Regions from separate parts of the Homo sapiens genome. Here all the other regions are linked to region 2. The links come from fine-mapping of genetic effects on gene expression. A gene starts in region 2. Each other region holds a variant in brackets. All regions are shown on one strand. Distances are between the middles of the regions.

The links. PIP is the estimated chance that this variant, and not a neighbour inherited with it, causes the effect.
Region 1: its variant is fine-mapped to the expression of ACSM1 in whole blood (TOPMed, PIP 0.98).
Region 3: its variant is fine-mapped to the expression of ACSM1 in whole blood (TOPMed, PIP above 0.99). The same link has a PIP of 0.9 or more in aorta, esophagus mucosa, lung and monocytes.
Region 4: its variant is fine-mapped to the expression of ACSM1 in blood mononuclear cells (TOPMed, PIP above 0.99). The same link has a PIP of 0.9 or more in T cells, esophagus muscle, gastroesophageal junction, lung, pancreas and transverse colon.

What each region holds. Positions count from the first base shown.
Region 1 is chr16:20,671,600-20,679,710 of GRCh38, forward strand. ACSM1 (acyl-CoA synthetase medium chain family member 1) reads right to left here. Exons shown (of 14, transcript NM_001318890.3): 5 at 1-72. It also overlaps a transcript of ACSM3 not described here. Among named protein-coding and RNA genes, the nearest start is that of ACSM1, 22 kb to the right of the region's middle. The variant C/T (reference allele first, on the strand shown) is at 4,645.
Region 2 is chr16:20,694,601-20,702,711 of GRCh38, forward strand. ACSM1 (acyl-CoA synthetase medium chain family member 1) reads right to left here and starts at 3,080. Exons shown (of 14, transcript NM_001318890.3): 1 at 3,036-3,080. It also overlaps a transcript of ACSM3 not described here and the pseudogene LOC124903661.
Region 3 is chr16:20,659,346-20,667,456 of GRCh38, forward strand. It overlaps ACSM1 (acyl-CoA synthetase medium chain family member 1), which reads right to left. Exons shown (of 14, transcript NM_001318890.3): 7 at 2,449-2,528. Among named protein-coding and RNA genes, the nearest start is that of ACSM1, 34 kb to the right of the region's middle. The variant T/C (reference allele first, on the strand shown) is at 3,449.
Region 4 is chr16:20,602,339-20,610,449 of GRCh38, forward strand. It overlaps LOC107984831 (a long non-coding RNA gene), which reads left to right and starts at 7,840. Exons shown (of 3, transcript XR_001752102.1): 1 at 7,840-7,972. It also overlaps the pseudogene ACSM5P1. RefSeq lists an enhancer at 1,505-2,704. The variant C/T (reference allele first, on the strand shown) is at 4,344.

The DNA.
Region 1 (8,111 bases), 23 kb before region 2:
CCACTGGTGAAGAAGATGACCATTGGGTCCAAGGTCTTTGACTTAACACAGGTGTGTTCTGGGGATGCTGATCTGCAAAGGGGTTCAAGACAAAAGGAAAAAAGTCATGATTGCTGTTTCTTCATCTTCTGGGAATGCAAAAGAAACATAAGGCACGGACAGGAAACTGGGAGTTTGCAACACTAGAGGAAAACTGGCTCTCCCGGAGTTAGGCATCACACTGACTTGATGGGTGATTCGGACATGTGGACCAGCATTTTTTTATTTGAAAAATTAGTAAAATACAATGAATCTTAAGTCATTTAATCTTAAGTAATTTAAGTAATGAATCTTAAGTAATTTAATGAATTCATTAAGTAATCTAATGAACATTTGAATAGCACTTGCTATGTTCCAGGCAATGCTCTCAATGAGTTACAAATATGAACCATTCAGTACTCAGAGCAACCCTAGGAGATGAGTACTACTCTAATCATGCCCATTTTGCAGGTAAGGAAACTGAGACTCAGAGAGGTTAGGTAATTTGCTTGGTAATATACAGCTAGCAAATGGCAGAGCCAGGATTCAAACTCAGTCGGCATCCTAGTCTGTGCCCTTAACCAGACTGCTAAGCTTGTTTTTTAAAATTAAACTCTGTGACCTTGGTGATGAGGGGTGGGGAAGAGAAAGAGAGAAAGGGGGAGAGTAAAAAAAATATATTTAGTTGGGCATGCTGGTGGGCGCTTATACTCCCAGCTACTCGGGAGGCTGAGCCAGGAGATTAGTTGTGAACCTGGGAGGCTGAGCTTGCAGTGAGCCGAGATCAAACCACTACACTCCAGCCTGGGTGACAGAGCAAAACTCCATCTCAAAAAAAAAAAAAAAAAAAAAAAATATATATATATATATATATATATAAAAAACATATTTATATATTATATATCATATATTAAATTTATATATAAAATTATATATAAATATATAAAATATATACTTTTATGTCATATATAATATATACTTACATGTCATATATAAATATAATTATAGGATATATAATTTATATATAAGTATATATAATATATATCATATAGTATATATTGTATATAATTTATATATAAGTATATATATACATATACATGTATATGTAAGTATATGTAAGTTATATATAATATTTATGCTTATATATAAATTATGCTTATATATAAATTATGTACAAAATATGTATAATATATAATATATATTATATAATATATAAAAATATAAATATATAATATATGTAATATATAATATATAAATATAAATATATATAATATATAATAAATATAAATATATATAAAACATATTACATATAAATATATAAAAACATTTATATATTATATCTCATATATAAAATTTATATATAAAATTATACATAAATATATAAAATATATACTTATATGTCATATATTATATACACTTACATGTCATATATACATATAATTATATGATATATATACTTATATATAAATTATACTTATATATAAATTTGCATATTATATATATATTATATATAAAATTACTGCGATCAATGTACCTCTGCCCTAGCATGAGCTTGAGATGGCAGATAAGATCTGTGGTTCCCTCAGTCTCTCTTGTTTCTCAGGAGCTTCCCCTGGACTGAGAGGGCCTTGGGCCTACTACAATTGTAAATGCAAGGCTTCTATGGTGTTCAAAGCAACTGCAAATAATCCCAACACGAGAGGAAACACTAGGTCTGCTGGTCTTGCTGTGAAATGGTATCATACTGACTTTGGGAAATTCGAGGGATTTTTCAAGAGTACTCTGTTTTAATTAAATTCTCTGACATTAGACTACAGCATAAGATGTGACTTTGCTGTAATGTTTGCCTTTTGGGGTTGAAATAAAGAGCTTTAAAAACTCAAGTATTACTCCAAGAAAACAAACCCAGCATGGTTTGTGTGTATAATGTGAGACATGACTGAAGGCTTACAGAATCAGAGTTTTGGAGGCAGAAGGGGCCTTTCTTATCTCCAGCCTTCCTTCACTTTGCCCCCAGGTGTCTCTGAAGGCACCCAGTCCCTGGGAGATGGAAAGAGTTTGCTCCCAAAGCTACCTATAAGCCATAGTTGGCAATTCCATTTTTCTTGGGGTCTTAAGTTTTACCTTAAAAATTCATTTTAACCTTTCATTCAACTACTTCATATATTTTTAATAGAAAAATAAGACTTTAGGTTTCCCACCTACAAGGAATATGTAACACAATAACCCCCTGACTTTACAAATCTCCTTTGCACAGTCCCAGGGGTGAGTATATTTTAATGAGAGGAACATGGAAGGTTGACTTGCTGAAAAATGTGAAATTTTACAGATAAAGCAACTGAGATCAAGAGAGGGCAAGGAACTAGGTCAGGGTCACATAGCAAAACAGTGACATAAGTGAGGTTTCTGACAACTGACTTGATGACCTTCCTACCACTGGCTGCTTGTCTCTCACCACTTGGGAGTGAATGGCATTCTTCTACCTGTGGAACAGGAATTAAAAGAAATTAAAGAATGTGTAAGCAAAAACTCAGTTGTATGTAAGAAAACCCAGTTGCCCCAGAGGAAGAGAAAGAGGTGGAGTCCTTTAAAAATTAACTGCCTGTTTCTCTGTCTGTGGCTAGTGAGCCTTATCTCTCCCTTTCCCAGGCATTGTGAAGACCCTGTTTCTCTAGCTGTGCAGCTGCAAGGTCACTAGACAGATAAACCCAAGTTGCAAAACATGTTTTTCCTTGAAAAGTAAGAAATGATGTAATGCATGTCTCAATTGAATAACTGTCTTTGTTTCTCACTTCTGTAATATGCTTCCCCCTGAACAGATCTCTCCCTCCCCCCTCTCCACCCCCAAAATGCTTAAAAGGTAACCTGACTCTTTGTTCTGGGCTCAGTCCTTTGGATATTAATCTGACTGGGTTGGCTGGTGCACCTAAATAATACATATATCCTCCTCAACCCCATCGGTCTCTCTGATTCCTAAATCATCCCCAAACATTTCTGGTGGCCCATATGGGGATTGGAGATAACAGATTTACTGTCTCCTTTGCCCATGGGACTAGGGCCCTGGGGCTGTGGAAGACCTGGCATCCAAGGCATGCCATGGGGGAGTTTCACCCGGATGGAGACTGGCTCTCCCCGCATCCTGCCCAGCAGTGCAACTGAACCTGAGATGGGGCTGCAGGATGACACCAGCACTTCAGGAACCGCGGTAAGGAGAAAGGGCCCAAGGTAGGAAAGCCCATCCCATAGGGATGAAGGTGAGCTTGATCACCTCCCAGGGACCAACCACTCATCCAACCCAGAGTGGCTGGGGGTGGCAGGAGTGGCCCGCCAATTTGGATGAACCTCGTGTCCCCCTAACAAAGTGAAAGTGGTTCACTGGTGGAGAAAATGGGCCGATACAGCGGCAAGTGCAGCAAGGAAGAGTTTGCTGGCAGAATGGTAAGAGTGGCTTGCCACCCCAACTGGGAGTGTGTGGGTGTGTGCGGACCTACCCAGGACACCAGAGAGGTTCGTTTCCTCTGATGAAGAGTCCTGGGGTAGAAGTGGTGTGTGTATGTGTGTGAATGTGGGAATCTAACTAGGCTCACCCGGGACACGAGAGAGGGTTGTTTTGTCCGATGAGGAGTCCTGAGGCAAGGGAGGTGTGTGAAAGTGTGTGAAAGAGACGGTCTCAGGAGAGGCCAATGCGGGGAGTAATGTGGGGAGGCACAGATCCCTTAGCGCAGGCTGTGTGCTCCCAGGCGAGTGTGGGGGAAATCAGTCCTAGGATGTTGCATATGGCTGATAGGTTGAGCTTCACAGCTGCAGCAGTCTGTGGCAGGGAAAGGCACGTTCCTGGCTAAGCAGCGTCTGAAACTCCTGTAATAGGACCCAGTCTGGTGGACCTTAGAGTGAAAGTGCACCTCAAGGGAGGAAATGGGAGGAAAAGCATGGAAACCAACTCCTTTTGGAGTGCATGATAAAGAATTTTTAAAAAGGATTTAGAGCTGATTATGGGATGAAACTGGATGTTCAAAAGTTAAGGACATACTGTGAATTAGAATAGCCCTCTTTTAGTGATGGATGGCTGACCAATGGCACTATAGGTAAATTGGCTGTGTGTTTTAAGGTAGTGACTAGCCCTGGAAGACAGCCAGGGCATTCAGACCTAGTCTTTATATTGATTCATGGCTAAATGAATGCAGCCCTGCCTAGCAGTTTATTGTAGAACGTTCACAGCTCACACCCAGAGAAACCAGCTGCGCTGGCGGCTACGGAGTTAAAGGTAAAGTCACAGAGGCTTGTAGCACCAAAAGTGAAAAGTGAAAGCCAAAAGTAAAAGTAAAAATCAGCTGCCCTGGCAACTACGGAGACAAAAGAAAAGTCTCAGGAAAGAGAAAACCAGTTTTGCAAGAACCACAGGAGGGAATAGAGACCCCTCCTCCCTACATTCCAATCTACCTCCCTTTACCAAGGCTAACTGCCCCTAAGGAATTAAGTTCAAAGAGATACAGGCTCCCAGTCTCACCTGAGAAGGAGAAATTAGAGCTCCAGGAAGTTAAAGTGAAAGGCTGGAAAAGTCAGGGAGGGTGTCTCAGGTCTGGTCACGCCCAAGTTATGCTTATGCCTCTTAAGAGGACAAGAGGA[C/T]ACCCACTAGGACCCAGATGATGCAGTCCAGCTTCAGCACCTACAAAAGTGCCAAGAAGCCCTTCTGCAAAGGCTAAAGGCTGGTAAAAGAAAAAGGCAACCAATATAAAAAATCTCAGAGGTGCTCCAGGGTGCAGATAAAAGCACCAGCCAGTTTTAAGAAAGACTTTTTGAGGCATTTTGGTTGTACACTCTGTTTAACCCTAAGGCTGCTGAAAATCAGTGCATGGTGGACACAGCATTTGTAAGGCAGGCCCAAGGAGATATCAGGCACAAATTGCAGAAGTTAGAAGCTCCGTAGGTGTGAATGCAACTCAGCTTATTAAAGTGGTTACAAGGTGTACATTAACTGAGTTCAGGAGGCAGAGAAGAAAGCTGATCAGAGGCTTAACAAAGGCTAATTTACTAGCAGCAGCCCTTATGGGAAGAGAAGCTGGCTTTGCAAGGAGGCATGGTCGTGGGCGTGAACACAGTCATGGAAAAGGCTGGTTTGGACAGGAGTTTGAAAGCTGGCCAAGGCTAGAGAGAGATTAATGTGCACGGTGCAAAAGGAAATGACACTAGAAGAATAAATGCCCCAAAAAATAAATAAATAAAATAAGGAGAATGGTCAAGGCCATGGTATAAAAAAAAACCCTCCAGCCAAGGGCTACTGCACCCAGGAGAAACCCAAGACTCCCTGCACCTGCTGTGAAAGGCAGGACATAAAGTGTCAGAAAAAAGCTCAAATCTGCTCTAAAAGTCTCCAGTATTTAAGCCTTTATATAAGCCAAGAGGAAAGATGGCTTAGTAGTAAACAAAAGCAATCTGTTTGTGCACTTCCTACTCCAACCACCTGGTGTCAAATAAGAGAGTTCCTAAGGGCAGCAAGGTTCTGCTGCATTTAGATCCCAAATTTCTAGCTTATGGCTAAGCCACAAAGAGAAGGAAAGAAAGAGCCCCTCCTCTAGGAGGCTAACCAGGAGAAGACTTTTAAAGAAATTAAAAAAAAAAAAAAAGCCTTGACTCAGGCCCCAGCTTTAGGACTGCCAGATCTAACTAACTAAGCTTATCTTCTTGTATGCCCATAAGTGAAAGGGAGGCCATGAAGGTTCTAACTCAAGCCATAAGGTCATGGCATCACCCAGTGACATACTTATCCAGGCAATTAGATTCTGTGGCACTTCACTGGCCTCCTTGTTTTAAAGCAATAGCTGCCACTGCCCTACTGGCTCAATAAGCTAACAAACTAACTTTAGAGACTGTGAATACCCTAAACCCGGCTACCTTGCTCCTCATCAAGTCAGTACCAGGAGACCCCCTTCATTGCTGTGTAAATGTGATAGATGAAGTGTTCTCAAGCCAGAGAGATTTGACAGATAGGCCCCTTGGGGAGCCAGACATAGAATATTTTACTGATGGAAGCAGTTTCATACGAAAGGGAATCTGCTGAGCTGGGTATGCAGTGGTGACTTTGGACTCAGTAGTAGAGGTGCAGTCTTTGCCTACAGAAACTTCTGCTTAGAAAGCAGAGCTAATAGCTCTGACAAGAGCTCTCTGGCTAGCAAAAGACCAAAAGACAAATATTTACACAGATTCCAAATATGCTTCTGACACTTTCCATGTTCATGAGGCTATTTACAAAGAAAAAAAAGGCTTTTAACTGCTGAAAGTAAAGAAATAAAGTACAAGGAAGAAATTCTACAGCTCTTAAATGCTGTATAGGCCTTAAAAGATGTGGCAGAGATGCACTGCAAGGGGCACCATAAAGGAAGAATACTAAAGGCTAAAATAAATAAATAAATAAATAAATAAATAAATGAGACAAAGAGGCAAAGCAGGACAACCCCACCTTCTAAAGAAGAAGCCTTAGCTATGCCTCTCCTCCCAGAGATTCCCCTTCTGTAGATCCCAAGCTACACTCCAAATGAAAGGGCTTGTTTTGCCCAGAAAAATATCAACTACATTGAAGAAGGATAGTAAAAATTTTCCAGTGGGAGGCTAGCCATCCCTGAAACGGTGGCCCCCAGATTTGTAAAACAGTTCCACCAAGGAACTGACCTGAAAAAAAAACACACAAAAAAACAGCACTAAAGACATTATTAAGGCATCATTTCTATGTGCCATGGCTCACTGCTATTACTCAAGCCATTTGTAAATGAACAATATTTAACTTGTGTTCAGAACAATCCATGACAAGGGCTTACTCCACCCCCAGGAGTTCAGGAAACAGAAGCCATGCCATGTGAAAAACTGCTTATGAACTTCACCGAATTACCCTGTGATGGGGGCTATCAGTACATGTTGGTGTTCACCTTTTCAGGATAAGTCAAGGCCTTCCTCACCGGGACAGAGAAGGAACTAGAGGTGACCAAAGTGTTGTTAAAAGACATTATTCCCAGATTTGGACTGCCTCTAACTCTAAGATCTCACAATGGACCAACATTTGTGGCTGAAATAGTTCAGGACTTAACTTGACTATTAAAAATAAAATGGAAATAACATATAGCCTACAGACTGCAGAGCTCAGGTAAAGCGAAGAGCATGAACCAGACACTAAAACAACTGCTGAAGAAATTGTGTCAAGAAACTCATCAAAGGTAGGATCAGGTCTTGCCCATGGTCCTCCTCCAAGTCAGGTGCACCTCCACCAAGCAAACTGGGTATTCCCCCTCTGAGATTTTGTTCAGCCGGCCACCCCCCATCATCTGTAGACTAGAAGAAGTAACTTTAAGAAGGCAAATGCAGACTTTAAGTATGGCCATGCAAAAATGCATGGCTAGGTATAGAAAAATGCCTATAAGTCTAACAGACCCAGTACACCCTTTCAAACCTAAGGATTTTCTTTAAGTTAAAAAATGGAATCCAACCACTCTAGGACCCATACAGGATAGGCCTCATATTGTAATCATGTCTACTTCTACTGCTGTTAAAGTTGCAGGTGTCACACCTTGGATTCACCATAGCTGGCTGAAACTAGCAGCAGCAGTGACTCCCGACTATGACCAGTGGATTAACCAACAAGACCCTGATTGCCCCACCCGAATAGACCTACGGCGAATCCCAACCACCAGTAAGAAGGACAACTGCCCTGCTCTGACCACACTGGAGGCTGGTCAGTCTACACATGGCTGAAGCTTGAAGATCTTGCAAGCTCTGCTCTAGTCACATCCTGGAAGCTGACTAGTCTACACACAGCCGAAGCTAAGAGGACCATCTCTAGATAAGTAAATGTAGATAAAATTTATAAGCCTAGTTATAATTGTTCTGTTGTTACATTATTACTGCAAATGCTGCAAATGTCCATGCCCAGAGGAAGGTTTGCCATTCCTATGTGTAGTGTAAGCATGTTTCTATTACATACACTAATGTTGTTACCATTTCTGCCTATACTAGAAGGGGAGAAATCTCTAGAAGGATGCCCACACTGTGTACATACTACCTGGGTAAGGAATACCATAGTTAAAACTCTACTGTACCATACCTAC
Region 2 (8,111 bases):
CATTTTTCCTGAAGACAGTCCAAACAACCCCTTACTAAGTGACTAAAGACCAAAACAAAAGGGAGAGATATAGTGAGGGAATCCATTAACCAGTTATCATGGTTTGAACTGTGTCCCCCATGAATGTATGTGGTGAAGTACGAACCCCAATATTTCAGAACACCACTGTATTTGGAGATTGGGTCTTTAAAAATGTAATTAAGTTAAAATGAGTTATTAGGGTGGGCCCTAATCCAATATGACTGGTGTCCTTATAAAAAGAGGAGATTAGGACACAGACACACACAGAGGGAGACCATGTGAATATGAAGATAGCCAAGGAAAAAGACCTCAGAGAAAACCACCCTGATCTTGGACCTCCAGCCTTCAGAACTTTGAGAAAATCAATTTCTGTTGTTTAAACCACTCAGTCATTAGTAATTTTCATGGCAGCCCTAGCAAACCAATGTACTCCTCTTGATCAAATAAAGAAGAAATGACTTTGGCATCATCTCACAAATGTGTTTGTGATTCTAATTTAATCTTCGTCACATGAGAGGGCCAAACACAGTGCCCAGCTGTGGAGAACTGTGGTAGCTGAAACAGCATGGCCCTAGAGATCAAACAACACGGGCTCAAATTCCAGCACTTTCATTTCCCACCCACATAACTTGGGGCAATTTATTTAACCTCCCTATAAAAACATAGGCATATTGGCAGCACCTATTGCCTGAAGCCATGGTGATAAATGCACGATATCCTGCAAAAAGCATTCAGCACGGACAAGTATTTTAGAAATAAGAGCTGTTGCTAGTTAACACACTTTATAGGGAAGCTCTTATAGAGTAGTTAAGCCAGAGGAAAAAAATTTCCTTAACTTTTGGAGTTAAGGTCTAAAGAGAAGGAATGGGGATGAATACCTGAACATAGACACCATAGGACTGGTATATGTCCAGCTTTTTCACTGATTATCTGTCTATCTATCTATCTATCTATTACCTATCTATTATCTATCTATCATCTATTTATCTATCTATTACCTATCTATTATGTATCTATCGTCTATCTATCTACCTATTACCTATTTTCTATCTATCTATCATCTATCTATCTATCTATCTATCTAGATATATAAGAACCTGATCTCCAAGTGTTGAGGACTGAAAATCAGATATCTATATGTCTATGTCTGCGTCTATCTCTATCTCTGTATGTATGTTAAGCTTCATTTCTAAATCTATTTCTGTATCTATATACCAATATTTACATTTATACCTATATCACTATCTGTGTATATCTATACATTAATATTAATGTCTATAACAATAACACATGTACACTGTAGTCATGTGCCACAATATGATGTCATTGTCAGTGATGGATCACATATACAGAGTGGCCCATACAATTATAATGACATATTTCTACTGTACCTTTTCTATGTTTCAATACACAAGTACTTACCATCGTGTCATGACTGCCTACAGTATTTAATACAGCAACAAGCTACATAGGTTTGTAGCCTAGAAGCAATGGGCTATAGCATATCGCCTATATGTGTAGAAGACTATGCTTTGTGGGTTTGTGTAAGTACACTCTATGAGTTCCCATAATAACAAAATCACCTAACAATGCATTTCTCAGACGTATCTTGGTTGTTAAGTGATGCATGTCTCTATCTCTATCACTATCTCTGTCTCTATCTCTATCTCCGTCTCTGTCTCTGTTTCGATATCTATTTCCATCCACATCTGTCTTCAGATTTGACTTCACAAAGCTTAGTTTGTCTATTTCTCACCGTGCTGGACATAGTAAGTGCTCAACAAAAAGTTAGATTCTTCCCTTCTTTGTCATAATTCAGAAAACTGAGTGATGAAAGTCAGAAAGAGAAAAGCCAGTGTGCCCACAAATTATCTGAGTTATAGAAAAATGTATTTTTTCTTTCTCAAGTATTTACTATAGATGTACCATGTACAGTTTTAGATACTATTGGAGATTAATTAAACTGAAAGAGTTCCTACCCTGTTAGAGCATATCATTAAAGCACATCCTATGAAATCATTTTAAAGAACAATTTTCTGAACTGCTTAAAGTGCATTCTGAAAGCAATTTGACATGGTAGCTTTGAGAGGCAGCTGGGCTCCCCACTGTATTCCCAGATACATAGTGCCTTGAACAGCTCCTGCAACTAAGCTTTGACTTCACAGGACTTGGGACTGATAAAGCTATTTAATGAAGCAACATACTTACTGTGTTATAGGGTATCCCAGAGTTACAGAGCCAGGGCTAGATGTTTGTCTCTGTTGTCTAGCAGCTGGGTCTTTGGTGCTGTTCATGTCTCTGAACTTAAGCGCACAGTAGTAATACCTTCTTCCCAGCTCCCCATAAGGATTAGTGTGATAATTTACTTGCTGGCACTGAATGAAGTGCACGGTAAGGACTCAATAAATGTTGAGGTACCTTTTAACTCCCAGCAAATTCTGAAGCCAACCCCCTCCCCATTAGATGTTAACCATTTTTTTTGAAACTGTCACCTGGACTGGAGTGCAGTGGTGTGATCATAGCTCACTGCAGCCTCAATCTCCTGGGCTACAGTCATCCTCCTGCCTCAGCCTTTCAAGTACCTGGGACCACAGGCATGTATTACTATGCTTGGATAATTTTTTTTAGAAGGCATTCACTTTATAGAAAGTGAGCCAACTTCTGCATAGATAGAAAAGATTTCCTTCAAACATTCATCTCTGACTTTGTGCCTGTCTCCCACGGCTCACCACATTCAGAGCTGCCTGACACTAAACCAGTCCCCATTTACATGCCAGCCACTGTGCTAAACATATTACATGTACGTTCCTATTTATTCCTCTCACCCAATATCACCATTGTCATTTTGCCTCTAAAATGAAGTGCCAAGAAGTTAAGTGACTTGCCCAAGGTCACTCAACTTAAAAGTAGCATTGCCAGAACTTAAAATTGGATTACACACACACACACACACACACACACACACACACACACACACACACACAGATAGAAGCTGACCTTCACCTCTGTCTTACCTGGTACTGTTTAGGACGTAGCTGAACTAGGTCCCTGGTAGGTATGGAAAAGGAGGTTGAGCTCTCTTTTGTAGGTTCAGTTCTCTCTGATCAGGTGATCCGCAGGATTGTGCACCCAGCAGAACTTGGCTTCTGGCCACAGCGAAGGGGGACCTTGAACAGAGAACTTGTTAGGAATTGGGTAATTCAGTAGGGGGAGGAGATGCTCAGGTAAAATAGGACAGAAACAATTACAGGCCTCCACGGAGAGATAATCACTTAGAAAACAAACCATGTGGGCCGGGCGCAGTGGCTCGCGCCTGTAATCCCAGCACATTGGGAGGCCGAGGCGGGCGGATCACGAGGTCAGGAGATGGAGACCATCCTGGCTAACACGGTGAAACCCCGTCTCTACTAAAAATACAAAAAATTAGCCGGGTGTGGTGGTGGGCGCCTGTAGTCCCAGCTACTCGGGAGGCTGAGGCAGGAGAATGGCGTGAACACGGGAGGCGGAGCTTGCAGTGAGCCGAGATCATGCCACTGCACTCCAGCCTGGGAGACAGAGACTCTGTCTCAAAAAAAAAAAAAAAAAGAAAAACAAACCACGTATACGAAGTCACCTCCAATTCCGGTGGCATGGCTAGGGGTGTGAATGAACTAGATCCAATGGTGCATTTTCACTAGTTCTCTGTGGCTAACCTGCTCCCCCTTCCCAGCCCTACATCACCATAGTCTCCCTTAAATGACAGCTGAGAGTCAGTGTAGCCTAATGGATAAGAGCCTGGGCTCTGGAGGTCTGGAGGCAGAAAGGTCTGAGTTTGAGCCTTAGGTCTGCCACTTAACCTCCATGTCATCTTTGTGGACCTTCTTGCTCTGGGCCTCACCTCCCTTAATTGGTTTTCGGTTGCTTTTGAGACAGAATCTCATGCTGTCACCCAGGCTGGAATGCAATGGCATGGTCTTGGCTCACTGCAACCTCCGCCTCCCAGGTTTAATTGAGTCTCTTGCCTCAGCCTCCCAAGTAGCTGGGATTATAGGTGCCCGCCACCACACCCAGTTAATTTTTGTATTTTTAATAGAGACAGGGTTTCATCATGTTGGCCAGGGTGGTCTTGAGCTCTTGACCTCAGGTGATCTGCCCGCCTCAGCCTCCTAAAGTGCTGGGATTACAGGCATGAGCCACAGCACCCAACACCTACCTTATTTGTAAAATAGGAATGATAACAACAATACCTACCTCCCAGGGTGTTTTCTTTGCTTCTTCATTTGTTTGTTAGAACTAGATGAAATAATTTATAAAAAGCATGTAGCACACGGTGCTGGGCATAGTCGATGTTGGCTCTTTTTATTCACTTGGGATTCTCAGAGGAACAATTTGGTATCCTGGTAAAATGCAGGGTCTTTGGAATCCCAAAGTCTTGAGCTTAATTAAGTCCAACCTCAGGCACTCACAAGAAAGCTCTTGGGTGAACCATTTTCCTTTCAAAGCTTGGTCTTGACATTTGTAAAATGAAGCAGGATTTGTTAATAAGATTTGTTGCATGGGATCATTGAAAGGATTATGTGACACCAAGCCTGTAAAGCACCTGGACCAGGCATTTAGATGGAGGGTTGATAGTGATATTGCATTGGATAAACCAAGGTAGTCATAGGTAGCGGCTTGTACTATGACTTTTCTACTGGAGCCATTTTTGGGGCATTGTTAGAGAATGAGGGATCTCCAGTATTTTCATTGAAGCTGGGAAGAAATTATTTCTGATCAAAGTCATGGCTAAAGATTTCTGGAGACACCCAGGACATTCCTGACAGGACCGTGTGGCAAGCTAGGATAGTTTGGGTTTTTAATATTTAGCTTTCTGTGGCCAGTCACTGGAGAGGTGAGAAGGCAGGGCTAGTTGACTGGCCATGGTAAGCTAAACCTTAAACACCCAAAGCATCAAAGTACCAAAAAACAAAGAAACGAACAAACAAAACAACTAACCAAAAAACCTCTGTTACTAAAGAGAAGGAGCAGCCACTTTTCGGAAAAGAATGGAGACGGGGGAAAAGCCCTTGACACACTCTCTGCATCTGAGTAGTTCTCCCCTGTGGAACTGCAACATGAAGGCATGGACAAGAAGACAGGCTCTGGCACCAGGCAGCCTGGGCTTGAGTCTAGCTTTTACCAGTTACCAGCTCTGTGACATTGAGCAGATTTCTTATCCCTCTTTTCCTCAATTTTCTCATCTTTAACAAGAGGTATACAGCGGACAAAGGAAAACTCTCCAAACATTCTATGTGTGCTCCTCTTTCATTTCCCAACCTCTCTTAAAGCTAAAGTGAGGCCATTAAACTCTAGTTCTGAACAATAAACTCCATGTGGAAGTGTTACAAGTCACTTCTGGCCTAGGGCATTTATTTAAGAGCAGGTATGAGTTTTCTGTACTCTCTTCCCCTGATTCAATGCTCCTGGAAACCATATATGGAGATAGTGACATCGTAAAATGGCAAAGTCTCTATCAGCCTTGTTCTCTGAGTGACTTCATGTAGCTAAATATCCTACCAACCTCAGCTTTTTGAACTTGCTATCGTCTGCTTATTATAGAAAACCTATGATACATTCATTCATTCAGTGGATATTTAAGGAACATTTAGGCGTGCTTTAAACATGTAAGACAAGGTTGGTGCTCTCAAGAGGTTTACATGCCTATGATAGAAAGGCAAAAGCCAATAAGCAAAAAGTCAATTAAATAAGCAAGAGGATTTCAAATGGTGATACTGCCAAAAAGAAAACAGAACAGGGCAATATGATGGAGAGAGTGTGGGGAGGTGGCTAAGGATGTTCTCCCTTAAGAGGTGACATTTTGAGACCTGAAGGAGGAGAAGCAGCCAGCTAGGGAAAAAGAACTCCAGGCAAAAGCCACAGCAAGTGCAAAGCCTGAGGCTGACATTTTCAAGGCATAGGTGGGGGACTGGGATGGCAGATTACTGAGTGAGAAGTATGATAAAGTGTGAGGTCAGAGACACAAGCAGGAGACATGCCATTAAGGATCTTTATGGACATAATAAGGAGTTTGGATTCTATTCTAAGTGCAATGGGTGGGTGCATGGAAGTCTCGTGAAGATTTTAGGAGGAAAGAGACATGATCCTATTAAGTAACTCATTTTCTTGGTGACTTGATTTTGAAATAAAGTAATACAGGAAAGTAAAACATTCAGAAAAAGAGGTCAGATTTGCATTTAGAAAGCCCACTCTGGCAGTTCTGTGGAGAAGATATTTTAAGGAGGCAAGAATGGATGTGGGGATGCCAGTCGGGAGGCTACTGCAATAGACTAAACAAGTAATGACGGTGGCTCAGACAAGAGTTATGGCACTGGAGATGGAGGTAAGCAGACGGATATGGGATAGATCTTTAAGACAACCTTAGGTGGACTTGTTGATGGTTTTGATAGGGAGTGAATAAAAAGAATCAAGGATGAATCTCAGCCTTTGACTTCTTCAATAATATAAATGGTAGGTCATAATTTATATATAAAAAATGCTGAAAAGATTATATAGCACATACAAAGTCACGGAGGCTACAGAAGGCAGGAATAGGACTTGAATCATGATTTTATTTAAGCTAGTTTTTCCTGCTTATAGGCTGTCTCTATCCTATCTGCCATGCTTCTCAATACTCTGGAATTGATGACAATAGAAAATTCCAGTGTGGTTTTATTTTTGTTCAACCATGCCGTATAAATTGACCAATGACTTCCCCACTCATCTCAGATCCAGTATTGCATGGACTTGTATACTGTGGAAGGAGTGATTTGAAATAATGTTCGGAAGACACTTGACAATGTCTACCATACAGCAAGTGCTTTTCAAAGGGTGGCTGTTACAAATTTTTAAAAAGAAACTTCAGAGCCAGATAGACCAAACTGGAATCTTTTTAAAAAAATTTTTACTTTAAATTCTGGGATGCATGTGCAGAACATGCAGATTTGTTACACAGGTATACATGTGCCATGGTGGTTTGCCGCACCTATCAATCCGTCATCTAGGTTTTAAGCCCCATGTGCATTAAGTGTTTATCCTAATGCTCTCCCTCCCTTTCCTCCTCACCCCTTGACAGGCACTGGTGTGTGATGTTCCCCTCCCTGTGTCCATGTGTTATCATTGTTTAACTCCCACTTATCAGTGAGAACATGCAGTGTTTGGTTTTCTGTTCCTGTGTTAGTTTGCTGACAATGATGGCTTCCAGCTTCATCCATGTCCCTGCAAAGGACATGAACTCATTCTTTTTTATGGCTGCATAGTATTCCATGGTGTATATGTGCCACTTTTTCTTCATCCAGTCTAGCATGGATGGGCATTCTGGTTGGTTCCAAGTCTTTGCTACTGTAAATAGTGCTGCAATAAACATACATGTGCATGTATCTTTATAGTAGAATGATTTCTAATCCTTTAGGTATATACCCAGTAATGGGATTGCTGGGTCAAATAGTATTTCTGGTTCTAGGTCCTTGAGAAATCCCCACACTGTCTTCCACAATAACTGAACTAATTTACACTCCCACCAACAGTGTAGAAGTGCTCCCATTTCTCCACAGCTTTGCCAGCATCTGTTGTTTCCTGACTTTTCTTTTTTTATAAGACAGAGTCTTGCCCTGTTGCCCAGGCTGGAGTGCAATGGTGCAATCGTGACTCACTGCAACCTCCACCTCCCAGGTTCAAGCCATTCTCCGGCCTCAGCCTTCTGAATAGCTGGGATTACAGGCATGTGCCACCATGCCCGGCTAATTTTTTGTATCTTTAGTAGAGATGGGGTTTCACCATGTTAGCCAGGCTGGTCTCAAACTCCTGACCTCGTGATCTGCCCATCTTGGCCTCCCAAATGTTTCCTGACTTTTTAATAATCACCATTCTGACTGACGTGAGATGGTATCTCATTGTGATTTTGATTTGCATTTCTCTAATGACCAGGGATGATGAGCTTTTTTTCAAATGTTTGTTGGCTGAATAAATATCTCCTATTGAGAACTATCTGTTCATATCCTTTGCCTATTTTATGATGGGGTTGTTTGTTTTTGTTCTTATCAATTTGTTTCAGTTCCTTGTAGATTCTGGATATT
Region 3 (8,111 bases), 35 kb before region 2:
TTTGTTGGCCTACATGTGCATTCTATGGAATGCTTTTTGGCCAAGAGCGGGGACTGAGGACTGAGCTCTGATTTTTACAATCTTGCCCAAATTCCTATCTAAGGTGCCTGGGGAGTCATACCTTACAAACCATAAATTCTCATCAGATGGGTTTTATTTAACCCTGTATATTGTGACTTAACTTTCCAATCTGACTCTGGCATAACATTACGAGACAAGGAAGAAAATCAAAATATTGTACCCCAAAACATGTTTCTCCGCCATATCTTGAAATTGCCCTGCAAAGTCTCTTGTGGGAAAAGTCCACATTCTATAGAGAATCCACTTTCCCCTTCATTTTCCTTCCTTCCTTTCCATATCCAGGAGATAATCAACTAAGAACCAGGCACCCCTTTTAAGTCCGATAAGACACATTTTACAACCTTTCTCTCTGAAGTCTGCTATCTGAGAGTTTCCTCTGCACAATAAAACTTGGTTTCCACAATCCTTTCTCTTAACCTGAACATTTCCTTTGATCCCAGGTCTTCAGATAAACTAATCATCAATGACAAAATGTTTAAATTTACCTATAACCTGAAAGACCCCGCTTTGCATTGTCCTGCCTTTCTGAACCAAACCAATGTGTTTCTTAAATGTATTTGATTGATGTCTCACGCCTCCCTAAAATATATAAAACCAAGATGCATCCTGACCACCTTGGGCACATGTTCTCAGGACCTCCTGAGGGCTGTGTCATGGGTCATGGTCACTCATATTTAGCTCAGAATAAATCTCTAAAAATATTTTCCAGAGTTTCACTTTTTTCATCAACAGTAGTAGTTTCCTATGTACAGCATGTGATATAAAGTCTCTTGTCCCTTTTTCCCATGAAATTTTCCCAAAGAATACAAAAACAATCACAAAATAATAATTAGATTCCCTGAAGAAAATGGAGAAAAGTGATGGAAGTTTGAAAGCCAGCTGGATGCATCTAGCATGAGGCTCAGCCCAGCCAGCTCTTGGTGATGAGGAAAGTGGCACCATCTAGACCACTTTTCCACCTCACTACCCTCTCCTGATACAGACAGGGTCAAGAGTGAGGATAGGAGGGTTGTGTTCACTGAGGATCTCTTCCTCATTCTTTTGAAGCTAAACCAAAGTACATAAAGTGGGCAGAGTCTCAGATGGAATCATTAGTTATGCCATGATAAGATGTGTGCCAAGTTTGGACCAAGGCCATCATGTGAGGAATGTTCCAAAACTTGGCTGTCATATGAGCTTTGAAATACAGATGGAAACAGAATACAGCCAGACTGAAGCTTCATGAGTAAAATCAAATTATAATTCAGAGTTAGCTCTGTAAGGGCAATCATTAAACTCTGATATTTTAACTTTTATGTCTAAAACATATTAGCTCTGATTTTTGAACTAGCCATTTCAATTTCAGAGTCCCTAAAAGATACATAAATATCCATAAGTTTCAAAGAGTGTGTTTTGGTTTAGCTTAAAATTAATTCTCAAACATAGGAAGATGCAAAAATAAAGTTGTATTAAGATAACACCACACACCCACCAGCCTGGCAAAAATTAATAAGTCTGACAATACCAAATGTTGGCAGGAACATGGAACAATGGAAATTCTCCTGCCCTGCTTATATAAAGAAGCATAAATTGGTTTGGAAGATAGTATGGTATTGTGTTGTATCAGTGTGACCCGCAATTCCTCTCCTTGAAAAACTCTACAGAAATGCATGCTTGTACACACCAGGGTGCATGTCCTAGGATTCTATGTAGCATTAAACATCAATAGCCTCAAAGCGAAAACTACAGAAATGTCCATTAATGGTAGGACTGGTATAAGAAATTGTGGTATTTTCATAAAATAGGATGCTGCACACAATTAAGATAAACTACAGCAATATGCAACAACAGGGACACATCTTAGAAACACAATTATTATATAATAATGTAGCATTACCTGTTTAAAATTCGAACACATGTAAAATAAAATTTTGGTTAGGGATAGTTCCTTAGGAGGTAAATTATAAAGGCAAGTAAGGAATTAACAACATAAAGGTCAAGATAGTTGTTTCCTTTAAGGGAGATGGAAGTCTCTGAGGTACTGGCAATGTTATGTTTTTTTGACTTGGTGAGTGGGTTACACAGATATTTTAATTTCAATAATTTATTAATCTGTAAATTTCTGTCTTATGCATTTTCTGTACAATTGTTATTTTACAACTGAAATGTTTAAAAAGGAATCAACCCACAATCATGCAAGGCTCACTGAGTTTCCTTTGGATCTCTGGATTTGCTTTAACTAATTAACTTTTGATCATCATCGCCACCAACACTTAACACACAAACACACACACACTCCTCAAAGAACCAGAAGAAAAACAGACCATGATGTATCAGATTCCTTAAAATCTTACCCAAAGATGTTGTTACAAGCCACTTCTACCATACCTGGTGAAATCCTGCTGCAGAATCATTCGATATATAGATGATACCCCCCAAAAGTGGTTAATGGGGTATTTCAACAATGTCTGGAAAGGGAAGAGAGAAGAAATTTTATTTTTACAGTTAAGGTTAAACTAACAGCCAATTATTAGCAGTCTAGTTCTGACCTTCCCACTAGAAGAGCCCATTTGTTAATTTCTTAATCCTTTAAATACACACATACTGAGCATGGATTTCATACATGGTATGCATCAGGTACTGTTGGGGAAATACAAAAACGCAGATAACGTTCCAACTCCTATGGTGAGTAGCCACTAATAGGATAAAACAGGACTCGAATGATAAGGCAGAAGTGGGTAGATGTCATAAGAAATACTTGAAGTACAAAAGTTCTGTAGGAACACAGGAGAGGGAAATACTCTTTCTAGTTGTGTGTCCCAGGGGCTTGATGGAAGAGGTGGTATTTAGTCAGGACATTAGCAAATAGATATGGTGTCTACAGGCAGGGAGAGTGGGAGTCTCTTGGAGATAGATGAAATAACAAGAAATAGGGTCTCAGGAGCTAAAGAAACATTTCAGTCAAGTCAAATAATATGATTTATTTAGACCCACTAGAGAGGAGCAAGAATTAAATTTAGGAAGATAAGGTAAGTTGGAGCCAGGTTATTTAGACTCTAAAATGTTTGGTACTCATGATTAATTGGCTGGATGTGTTTTCTTTCCGAGTTTCAGATCAGGGTGGAGATACACTAAGAGAGTGAAGAACAGTAAAGAGAAGAGAAAGTGGGTTTGGGTATCTTAATTTAAATCCTGTTACTTAATTTGTCTGTAATTCAATTTCCTTATCTGTAAAATGGGAACGTCCATATATTCCATTTAGAATCATGATGAAATATAATTGTCATTTGTGGACAAATCTAGCTCTACTTCCAGTCCCTCCCTTCATAAAGACCCAATCAGCTTTCAATCTCTAGCCTCTATCTCTTTAATATCTCACATTTATATA[T/C]GCTTTTAAAATTTTTGTCCTACTCTCACCCCTGGCCCACTGCCCCTACCCCAACAGGTGTCTTTACATGTCTGTGAAAGTCTCAGGCCCACTCCAGCAATGTCTGTGTCAGTAACCTCACCCCAGGCACAGTGAGTTGGATTGCTGACTTGGTGACAGACAATTGCCTTAGGCTGTGTTGGTAGAAGAGCTGAGGCAGGACTGGCTTCTCTGTCATGATGTAAAAGAGTCTTGGAACATGTCCTGGGTCCAGGGCCTAAACCCCCTTGTGGCCTTTGGGACACCAATCTCTGTGCCAAAGGGTGGAAGGCTGCCCTGCCGCACCATAATCTAAGCCCAGGGCATAAAACCCCTTGTGGCCTCTGGAATGTGCACAGACTTGTTGGCTACTCTCCCAGGCTCATAAATATGTTCTCCATTATCTCAGGTAGCAGAGCATATTACATATGCATCAAAGAAAATGCTAAACCGTCACAGTTATGCTTGATGCACTGCTACTTTTCTACCCCCATGTCCTCCCATCCTCACCTCTTTACCCCCACATCCGCATGTCCTCACCACCTGCTTCTTTGTTTGATCACCAATAAATAGTGTGGGCTCCCAGAGCTTGGGGTCTTCACAGCCTCCATACCAGTGTTGGTCCCCTGGACCCACCTTATGCACTCTTAACTTGTCTTTTCTGATTCCTTTGACTCCGCCGGACTTTGTAGCCTCCACGGCCTTGTGTTGGGTCTGATCACCCCAACATTCTGGACCACTCACTCAGCCTCTAGTTGACCTGGACTGGTTATCTGGGAAGGGGGAATGTCGCCCTGAAATGCTGTGATTGCTATGTTTGACTATGTGCATGTGAAGTAGCAAAAGTGTTTCTACAAACAGAAACAAGGAAGCACATCTATAGAGAAAAGCAGAGGAGACACTGAAGCTGCCTTAATTGCTGGTATCTTTCTACTTTCTGTTTTAGATCTTTATCAAGCTCATATTGCTCTTCTCCTACAGAATAATGAGCTATTCTAGTTCCCCCTTCCGTGTATTTCTTTTTCCACTAAGCTACGTTGAAGTAGGCTTCTGTTACTGGCAGCCAAGGGAGCTCTGCTTAGTAGGTAAGAATTAGACATCATAGGTGTCTAAGGCCTTTCCCAGAAATTGGCACTTAGTAGGTGTTCATCAAATGTGGGCTCTGGCTATTATCATGTAAGTTGTAATCTATGACTACTCCTGGTGCTTTGCAGCTTTCAGTAGGGGTGTGGAACGGAGATCAGCAGACTCTTGCAACAGATTTGGCAAGGACTAAGTTGACAGGGGTGGGTAGAGAGGAAATAGAAGGAATGTTTTGTTTTACTAAATTGAATAGTATTTATTTATTTATTTATTTATTTATTTTTGGTCTAAATGCCCCCTTTAAAAGGCAGAGTGGGAAGATGGATACAAAGAAAATACCCAACTGTCTTCTGTCTTCATGAGACCCATCTCACAAGTAATGATGCCCACAGGCTCTAAGCAAAGAAATGGAGAAATATCTGCCACACAAATGAAAAACAGAAAAGAGCAGGAGTCCTTATTCTTATATCAGATAAAAACAGACTTTAAACCAGCAATGATTAGGAAGGACAAAGGAGGGCATTATATAATGATAAATGGTTCAGTTCGACAAGAAGACTTAACCGTCCTGAATATATGCACACCAAATGTTGGAACACCTAGATTTATAAGGTGAGTTCTTCTTGACCTATAAAAAGATTTTGCCAAACAAAAATAGTGGGGGACTTCAACAACACACTGAAAATGTTAGACACATGATTGAGACAGAAAACTAACAAAGAAATTATGGACTTAAACTCAACATTTGACCAATTGGACCTAATAGACATCCACAGAATAATTTACCTAACAACCACAGAATATACATTCTTCTTGTTCCCACGTGGAACATATTCTAAAATTGACCACAGGTTCAGTCATAAAGCAAGTCTCAATAAATTCAAAAAATCAAAATCTTACCAAAGTACATTGTTAGACCACAGTGCAAGAAAAACAGAAATCAATGTCAACAAGATCACTGAAAACCATATAAAAACATGGAAATTAAACAATTTTCTCCTGAATAACTCTTGGGTGAACAAGAAGTCAAAAAAGTTTCTGAAATTAATGAAAATGAAAATAGAGATACCATCTACCAAAATCGTTGAGATGCACCTGAAGCAATGTTAGAGGAAAGTTTATAGCACTAAATGCCTTCATTAAGAAGTTAGAAAGATCGCTAATTAAGAATCTAATATCACTTCTAGAGGAACTAGGAAAAAAAAGAACAACCAACAAACACCAAAGCTATCAGAAGAAAATAAATAATTAAAATTAAAGAACTGAATGAAATTAAGATGCAAAAGTTTATACAAAATATCAATGAAACTGAGAGCTTGTTTTTCAAAAGAATAAACAATATTGATAGACTGCTAGCTAGATTAACAAAGAAAAAAATGAGAAGATCAAAATAAGCCCAATCGGAAATGACATAGATGACACTATAAATGGTCCCACAGAAATATAAAAGATTCTCAGAGACTATTATGAACACACTGATGCACCTGAATTAGAAAATCTACAGGAAATGGATAAATTCTTGGGAACACACAGCCTCTCAACATTGAACCAGAAAGAAAGTGAAAACCTGAACAGACAAATTACAAGTTCTGAAATTGAATCAGTAATTACTAATCCCAAAAAGCCCTGGACAAGATAGAATCACAGCTGAATTCTAACAGATATACAAAGAACTGGTACCAATCCCTCTGTAACTAATCCAAAAGATTAAGGAGAAGGGACTCCTTTCTAACCATTCTATGAAGCCAGAATGCTTTTGGCACCAAAATATGGCAGAGATACAATGACAAAAGAAAACTCCAGGCCAATATCCCTGATAAACGTAGATGCAAAAATTCTCAACAAAATACTAGTAAACTGAGTCCTGCAGCACATCAAAAAGTTAATTCACCATGATCAAGTAGGCTTTATTCCTGGGATGCAAGGTTGGGTCAACATATGCAGATCAATAAACAGGATTCACCTCTTAAACAGAATAAAAAAGAAAAGCCATATGATCCTCTTAGTAGGTGCAGAAAAAGCTTTCAAAAAATCCAATCTCTCTTCATGATAAAGCCCCTCAAGAAATGAGGCATTGAAAGAACATACCTCTAAATAATAGCCATCTATGACAAGCCCACAGCCAGCATCACACTGACCAGGCAAAAGCTGGAACCATTTCCCATGCGAATTGGAAAAAGTGTAGGATGCCCACTCTCACCACTCCTATTCAACATAGAATTGGAAGTCCTACCCAAAGCAATCAAGCAAGAGAAAGAAATAAAAGATATTCAAATAGAAAAAAAGTCAAACTATCTCTTTTTGCTGACAATATATGATTATATACATTAAAAAACCCTAAAAACTCTACCAAAGGGTTCCTGGAACGGATAAACAACTTCAGTAAAGTTCCAGGATATAAAATCAGTGTACAAAAATTAGCATTTCCATACACCAACAATGTTCTAGCTGACAGTCAAATCAAGAACACAATCTGATTTACAACTACCACTAAAAATGAAATACCTAAGAATACATCTAACCAAGGAGGTGAAAGATGGCTACAAAGAAAACTACAAAACACTGCTGAAAGAAATCAGAGATGACACAAATAAATGGAAAAAGATTCCATGCTCATATATTGGAAGAATCAATATTGTTAACATGACCATATTGCCTAAAGCAATTTATAGATTCAATGCTATGCCTATTAAAATACCAATGTCATTTTTCACAGAATCAGAAAAAACGACTTTAAAACTCATATAGTACCAAAAAGGGCTTGAATACTGAAAAGAACAAAGCTAGAGGCATCACGTTGCCCAACTTCAAACTATGTCATAAGGCTACAGTAACCAAAACAGCATGGTACTGGTACAAAAACAGACAAATACACCAGTGAAACACAATAGAGAAGTCACAGCTATAGCCATATGGTCTTCAACAAAGTGAACAAAAATAAGCAATGGAGAAAGGACTTCCTATTCCATAAATGGTGCTGGGAAAACTGGCTAGCCATATGTAGCAGAATAAACCTGGGCTCCTACCTTTCGCCATATACAAAAATTAACTCAAGATGGAGTAAGGATTTAAATATAAAACATTACACTGTAAATATCCTAGAAGAAAATCTAGGAAATACTCTTCTGGATATTAGCTATGGCAAAGAATTTATGGCTAAGTCCCCAAAACCAATTGCATCAAAACCAAAAATTAACAAGTGGGACCCAATTAAACTAAAGAGCTTCAGCACAGCAAAAGAAATTATCAAGAGAGTAAACAGCTTACAGAGTGGGAGAAAATATTTTCAAACTATGCATCTGACAACATCCAGAATCAAATATCCAGATTCTACAAAGAATTTAAGTTATTTGTAGACTCTTATATGTGATGTCTAATTAGAACTAATATCAGAATCTACAAAGAACACAAATCAACAAGTAAAACCCAAATAATCCAATTAAAAAATGGGCAAAGTACATAAACAGACACTTCTCAAAAGAAGACATGCAAGCATCCAACAAACATATGAAAAAATGCTCAATGTCATTAATCAGAGAAATGCAAATTAAAACCACAGTGA
Region 4 (8,111 bases), 92 kb before region 2:
GTGCTCGACCATCTCGGGGTCCCCGGTGGTTCCGCTGGTGAAGTAGATAGCCAGTGGGTCTTGACACTTTGTCCTCACGCAGTTGTGCTCTGTAGATGCCTCCCTGTAAAACGTAAAAACACTAGGTGGCACTACCACGGTAAAAACAGTTAGTAGCACCAATAATATGTATAACAACAATATGACTACCGTTTCATAAATACCACATGCGAGGTGCTGTGCTGAAAGCTCTGGCTTGGGTAATCTGCAACCACCTCAAGGGGCAGGTACTATCATTATAACCCTTTTGCAGACCAGGAGACTGAGGCTCAAAATGGTTACATAACTCACTCAAAAGAGCCCATGCTTTCTTACCAAGGTATGAGGACTTTCTGGTAGAACACACACACGTCCATGTCTATAATTCTGCACATTTAGGCACAGCTTCCACCCCCATCCCAATTTCTAATAATTTAGAACTCTTTTCTAAAGGTTTCCCCCAATATGGGGTTTTGAGATCTAGGTAATTCCCAAAGTTCTGTGATCTGGATGATCAGCTAATCCACGGGCTCTCATCCCTGGCTGCACTGTGAAGTCCCCTGGTAAATTTTTGGAAGAAACTTGTCTGTATCCACCCTGAACAAAATAAAATCAGAATCTTTGATGTTTTCTTAAATGCTTCTCAGTAATTCTAGTAACAGCCAAAATTGAGAACCACTGATCTAGGCCCACCTGACAGCTCTCAAAATCATATGAGCTGATTTTTTTTTTTCTTTTGAGATGGTGTTTCGCTCTTGTTGCCCAGGCTGGAGTGCAATGGCGTGATCTTGGTTCACTGCAACCTCTGCCTCCCGGGTTCAAGTGATTCTCCTGCCTCGGCCTCCCAAATAGCTGGGATTATAGGCATGTGCCACTACATCCAGCTAATTTTGTATTTTTAGTAGAGACGGGGTTTCTCCATGTTGGTCAGGCTGGTCTCAAACTCCTGACCTCGGGTGATCTGCCTGCCTCAGCCTCCAAAAGTGCTGGGATTACAGGCGTGAGCCATGGCGCCTGGCCCTATGGGCTGATTTTTTAAAAAAGATCCCCAGGGCTCTTGCTCAGCTATGTCTGGTTAAGTAGGTCAGATATGAGGCCTTGTCATCTGTATTCAAAACAGCACCCAGGTGAATCTGATGCAGCTGGTCTGTGGGGTGAGCATGCATGACTCAATGGTTCAGGCCCCTGAGAGGCTCCTTTTGGGTTCTGGCTTCCAATCAGGACAAAGTCTCAAATTCTGAGATGGGTTTCCACCAGGCCCTTGCTCCAAGGCAAATATGCTTTCGGCTCTGCCCACTCCTGACTTGACTACTTTTTAGCACCTTGGGCAAGTCACTTTAGTTTTCCAAGTCTCAGTTTCCTCATCTGTAAAACTGAGTTAAAGGGCCCATCACAATGTCCTTTTCAGGGATTAAATAAGATGATGTTTGATCCATTATGGTGTTCTGAACACCAAACACAATGCTTGTCGTGAAATAGATGTTCATTAAATCTTCGCTGCATGAATGAATGAAGGTGAAGGCTTACATAGCACAGTATCTAGCGATACACTAAGTACCCAATACATGGCCACTAGTTTATTATTAACTGACCACCTGCTATGTGCTAAATGCACCATATTGGTTATTTCATGTACTCTGAATGGTAGCTCTAATAACTACCACCGCATTATAGAAGCAAATGAAGCACAGAAAAGCTGCTGACAAATCCAGCACTGACTGAATGAGGGACCTTGAACATTAAGGTAGGGACCAGGATTATGCTCAAGTCAGCCTGGCTGCCAATGGGAGTGTTCCTCTCTGATTCGCTCTCTATGTGTGGAATCAGCAATGCATTTCATCTCTTGTTGCTTAAAGGGGAAATGACTTCATTTTTCTGCTGTTCTCCTGGAGAGCCCCAATTCACCGGAGGAGTTCCCTGAAGTTCAACCAGCCTGGCCGACTGCTGTCTGACACCAGCAGCTTGGTCTTGAGGGAGGGGCATTCGGCGCTGATGGTGTCCACCCTTGGAGCTAGGGAGTCACTGGTGATAATGGACTTGGCCCTGGACGCGTGCAGCCGGTACTTGAGGTCCTTCTGCGTCAGCTGAGTGACACCTGGAATCATCACAGTCCCTGGCATAAAACAGAAGGGGATGTTGAGTGGATAGTAGGGAAGACTTTGGGTATAGAGGTAAGAGATGAAGGCAGGAAGGGGCTGGGGAGGGTTGGAATGCATGAGCTGGAAGAGGTAACAATAATAATAATAACAGCCTAAAAACCCTAGCCTTCTGAATAAGTGCGTGATCACTTACTCACTCAGCATCACTTAGTAGTCATCTTATGATTAGACAGAAATTTCTTTAAATGCCTGAAACCAATAAATCTCCCAGTCTTTGGGTGGGTGTTGGGGCACACCTTTAGCACTCAGCCAGGCAATTAACAATCCTGCCTTAGTCTTAATTTCCTGCATGCTCCAACTCTCAGTCTGCCAGAAGTGGGAGCCTAGAGTTTCCTCAGATCTTTCCTAAGCATGTGCAATGCCCTGGGAAAGCACACAGCCTTACTTACGTGTGTTGATTTCTAGATTTCCAGGAATACAATAGAATTTTTTAAAGCTCCCATAGACATTGGATTCTCCAGCTTTTCTTTTTTCACTCTTTGGTGAATCTATTGTTTGTCCCACTGTTATCCATCACCTTAGGCAACAATGAAGCTAAAACATTTGTCTGTAATTGTTTTGGACAAAAACCCCCAGGGAAAAGGCTTTTCTCATTGGTTGAGCTTCAAGTTGATTCAAATACAGTTTTACAAGTAGGGTCTTCCAAAGGACCAATGGGCAGCTCAAATAATAACAGTTCTTCATAAGTGAAGCTTTGAAAAAACTCCAACTCCATTCTGGCCCATCTAATGGTTGCTGTGATGCACCAGAAATGGGGGCTGTTATTTTTCAAGGCTACCACATAGCTGGACAGTCCTTATTCTACCATTTTTTTTCCTGACCTAATCCTGCTTGCTTGTTTTTATCATTAGGAGAAGTCTTCTAAGGATGCCCCTAGTATTGCAAAAAGAACTTCGATTTTTGTAGGCCATCAGTAATGGAGCATCCTGGCTTCATCTCTTACATGCAATTCTCATTTAATTCTCACTATTACTCTAAGTAGCATATGGTCTGACTACCATTTTACAGATGAGAAAGTTGAGATCTAAAGAACTTAGGGCACTTGTCCAAGGTCACACTTCATGTACATGGATGAACAATGTCTATCTGACTGCAAATCCTGCTTTTAAGTCTCAGTCATCCTCATACCACCTTCATAAGTTTCACCACATCTGCTGACAGTTAATTTTATTGTATCTACTAACAACGCCATTTACTTCATACTTTTTCTTTAAACAATCTCTTCTTATAATTAACATGAATACAATTCTTTGAATTAAATTTTATGTTTCCAGTTTTGTATTCTCCAGCTTTTCTTTTTTCACTTTTTGGTGAGTCTATTGTTTGTCCCTACTGTTATCCATCACCTTAGGCAACAATGAAGTTAAACATTTGTCTGTAATTGTTTTGGACAAAAAGCCCCTAGGGAAAAGGCTTTTCTCATTGGTTAAGCTTCACATTGGTTGAAATACAGTTTTACAAGTATGTCTTCCTCTTATAAATGAAAAGTTAGTATCATGTAACACAAATAAAAGGTAACCATGAAATAGAGAGACCCAACAGACACAGATATAAGAGAAAATAAAGAAGAAAGCAGATGCACAGAGACACACAAAGAAATCAGGGTTATCTTATTCAATTCTATGTATCTGTTATGATCTGCAAAAAGCTTTGAGCCTGAGCCCTATTCTTTCCTTATTTTATATTGTTTTGTTGTATTTTATTTTATTTTTTGAGGTGGAGTCTCACTCTGTTGTCTAGGCTGGAGTGCAGTGGCATGATCTTGGCTCACTGCAACCTCTGCCTCCTGAGTTCAAGCAATTCTCATGCTTCAGCCTCCAAAGTAGCTGGGACTACAGGTGTGCACCACCATGCCTGGGTAATTTTTTTTTTTTTTTTTTTTTGTATTTTTAGTAGAGATGGAGTTTCACCATGTTGGCGAGGCTGGTCTCGAACTCCTGACCTCAGGTGATCTGCCCTTCTCGGTGTCCCAAAGTGCTGGGATTATGGGCATGAGCCACCGCGCCCGGCCTTCTTTCCTTATTTAGAAGAGAAGGGCATGACAGTGAGAGAGAGACATCAAAGATAGAGTAGCAGCAAAACAAAACTTCCTCCTTCAGTTGATGAACAACTGGAAGGGAATCGGAAGGGACATAACTGTCTCACTGTGTGATTTGGGCTCAAGAA[C/T]GCAGGACACTTCAGAGAAGGAACAAGCATGTCTAAGGCTCACAACACTGACTCAGAATTTTTTTCCTAAGTGTCAAATGCCAACAGTTTACATTTTAGAACTAGCAAAATTCCCAGGTCCAAATTTCCTCATCAACATGTCTTGGAGCCTTGAGTCTCATTGTGGTACATGAGGGCAGCCTCAGATGCCCCAGATGGACTCTAGGACAGAACAGGCTTCATCTCTTCCAGCCGACTCCACACATCCAGCACATCATGGGCAAAGTTGAAGTATTCAGGCACCGGCTGCCTTCCCAGGCTGATGGCTTCCCAGGTGGCCACGATCTTCTGAGGAACAGGTAGAGGTGCTGGCTGCCCACAAGACCCACAGAATGCCCTGGAGTTCCTCAGTGCCTGGAGGACTAGGTGTCTCAGCCATGGTCTCATGCGGTCGCCTCCTGTCTGTCACCAAAGAGAGGAAAGAGAGCATTGTCATAAATTCTGGGCTTTGGGGACAACACAGAGGTTAGGAGAAACCTGTGGTCAGTGCTGATGGTGACTGTGGTCCCTACTGACTTGTAGAACAAACTCTCCACATTTCTGAGCAGAAAGTCTCAGTTCTGCTGTGTGATGGTCATTTCTCTCCTCTGACCCCGAGGTCCGTCCTTTTGACCTCTCACTGACTTGTGGGTCTCTGGGTCTGAGGTCAGAACTCAGAGCCCACTTCTCCAGGCTCAATACTTCAAAGGCAATCCCTCAAAAAGCCTTTGGCCAATCCTGAACTGACCTTGCAAAGCTGAAGACAGCTCTGGGGCAGCACCGTCCAAAAGAAATAGAATGTGAGCCACCTGTGCAATTTACAATGTTCTAGTACCATTGCCAATAGTTTGCCAATCCTCTCCCTTGGAAAGAGATATGCGACTTGTTCTTCCCATTTGGTCTTTGTCCTGAAAACAACAAAACCCAGAAAGCAGCACCTCTGCAAGATTTCCCTGTGTATCCTTGCATTTTTGCAACTACATGGCCAATTGACAGGGAAAAGATCCAATTGATAGAGTGTCTCAAATTGTTCCAACATATAGAACATGAATAATAATTATTTTCGAACTCCTGTTCAAAGGAAAACTCACTGACATGAGACAAGTGACTTTTGGCAATTACCATCAACATTTTGTTATAAAAATGCTCATACATACAACATTGATTTGTTAACATTTTAATGAACATGACAACACATATCTACCCATCTTTCCATTCCTCTACCCATCCCTCAGCCCATCTTATTTTACATGTATTTCCAACTGAATTGGAGGCATCAACATACTTCCTGCTGAATAGTTTGGCAAGACTAACATTAACTAGAATTCAATATTTCTTTATAAAATTTTCTTCTAAAGAAGAGTGACATAGAAGAAAATATGCAAATCTTAAGTGTGAGTTTACTAACTTTGAAAAGTACCTACACCAGCATAACCCACCTCCTTTTCAAGATCTACACTATTATGTCACCACAGAAAGTGAACTCTCCCTCTTCCTAGCCAATCCCTTTCTCATAGTAGGTTAATTTTGCTTAGTCTGGAATTTCACATATATAGATGCATGCCATGCCATAGGTACTCTTTTGTGTCTGCCTTATTCTGCTCAACACAATGTTTCTGAAATCATTCCCATTGTTGCACAGATCTCTAATTCAATCCTTTCCATTTTGGACTCAGCATATTCTGAGTTTAACCTGTTGAATGGCTATCTCTGTTTAATTCGCCATCTTGAAACATTTAAAATTAAGATGTTTTCAAGAATATACAGTTAAATCCAAGGAATCAATGTAGGAATGTTATCAGAAGGTGTTGGAAGTTACTCAGGTGAAATCTTTGTCTTAATTCACGTAAGAGTCTAATGGAATTAATATCAAGAATCTTAGAGAAACCCCATACTATTCATGCCATTTTTATGACCTCTACATTGGTTATGTTTAAGCACTAAAATTTGATACTTATTTCTGAATGAAATCATCTCTTTATTGTATTTTTTTTACTTATGCTGATCTTTAAATAGCAAAAATTCATGTACTCTAAGAAAGAAGTATGATTCAGAGGGATTCTTTCATCATATGGTACATGACAAATAGATACAATGTCATATTCAATTTAAAACATAAGTAAATATAAGTAAATAAGTAAATAAAAGTAAATAACTTTAAAGAAAAGGTAATTACCTTATACCTAGCTTGTCTAACCCACAGCTGACAGGCCACATGCAGCCCAGGACAGCTTTGAATGCAACCCAAAATGAATGTGTAAACTTTCTTAAAACATTATGAGTTTTTTGTGTGTTTCTTATAGCTCATCAGCTATTGATAGTGTTAGTGTATTTTATGTGTGGCCCAAGTTGAAGAAAATTCTCCATCTTCTAATATAGCCCAAGGAAGCCAAAAGATTGGACATCCCTGCTTTAGACCAAGAAAAAAGACACACCACATTCACAAAGCCTAAGAAGACTACCAGCCATGCGAGAAACATGGGACTGGTAATTTCCAATCTTTCTTGAAACGGTGGAATCCCCTGGTGATATCTGAGGGTGCACTTACTTCTTGGAGGAGGTTGAGGGTTTCTAAGGATAATTCTTTGTGACTGAAATATTGTAAATGTCATTGACCCTTCTCATTATTTCAACTGCTATTATTCCAGGTCATCAATTTTCTGCCTGGCCATCTTCATCCTGGGCCTGACTTTTTTTGAATTCCTTGGATGCTTAACATTGTTGTTGTGTTCCTGGGAATTATTAAATTTGCCATTTTCTTCTGGAATACTAGCTTTGGTATGAGTATACTGACTTCCTGTAGAGGTATACTTGTAATCATAAATAAGAAGAAATCATTTTAAACAATTCATGGTTCTGGACTTCATTATGAATATTGGGTTTTACCAAAAAAATCAGAAAAAAATAATTTATTAGCAGAAGAATTATAAAAATAGCTGCCATTTACATTATGAAAATTAAATAGGTTTGCATTTGTTTAGTAGGATGCCAACAGAGCTTTTGGTCAAAAGTATTTTTTTTTTTTTACCTTTGTTCTCTTTATCCATGAGGGCAAAGATCATGTAAAACAATTTTGAGCATATAGTAGTTGCTTAACTAATAGGCATTGGATGAGTTATTAATTTGTGATAATAGTTCTTTCCCCTTAAATCTGATTGTTTGTTATTATGTTAATTCTGAGTCCAGAAACACAAATTTTTTAAGTGTTGATTTCTTGGATTTTTTAATGTGCTATTGCGCTTATTTTAAAGGCTAGTAAAACTGATCTTCTAAACAATTGCTATTCTCCTAGTAAATGTTCCTTCAATGGTAATGGAAGCCATGTGCAGACAAGACACCCTGCAGCCCTTCAATAAGAGCTGGCAGGCTGGCTGGATGAGAGGCTGGCCAAGGGGGCAGCTAGGAGGCTGGTCCAGAGGAAGTCTGAGAGGCCGGCACTCAGACCTCTCAGAGAGACTGGCTGAGAGGCTGTCTGGATTAAGAGCCAGACAAGAGGCTGCCTGAGAGGCTGTATGAGAGGCTGGCTGCCTCAGAGGTTGACTGGTTGAAAGGCTGGCTTAGAGGCAGGCTGAGAGGATGGCTGGATTAGAGGCTTGCTGAGATGCTGACTGGTAAGTTGGCTGGCTGAGAGGCTGGACAAGGGGGTGGCTGAAAGGCTTGCCAAGAGGCCGGCTGGCAATCTGGTACAGAGGCTGGCTGAGAGGCTGGTCCAGAGGATGGCGGCATGGGAGGCTGACCAAAAGGCAGGCC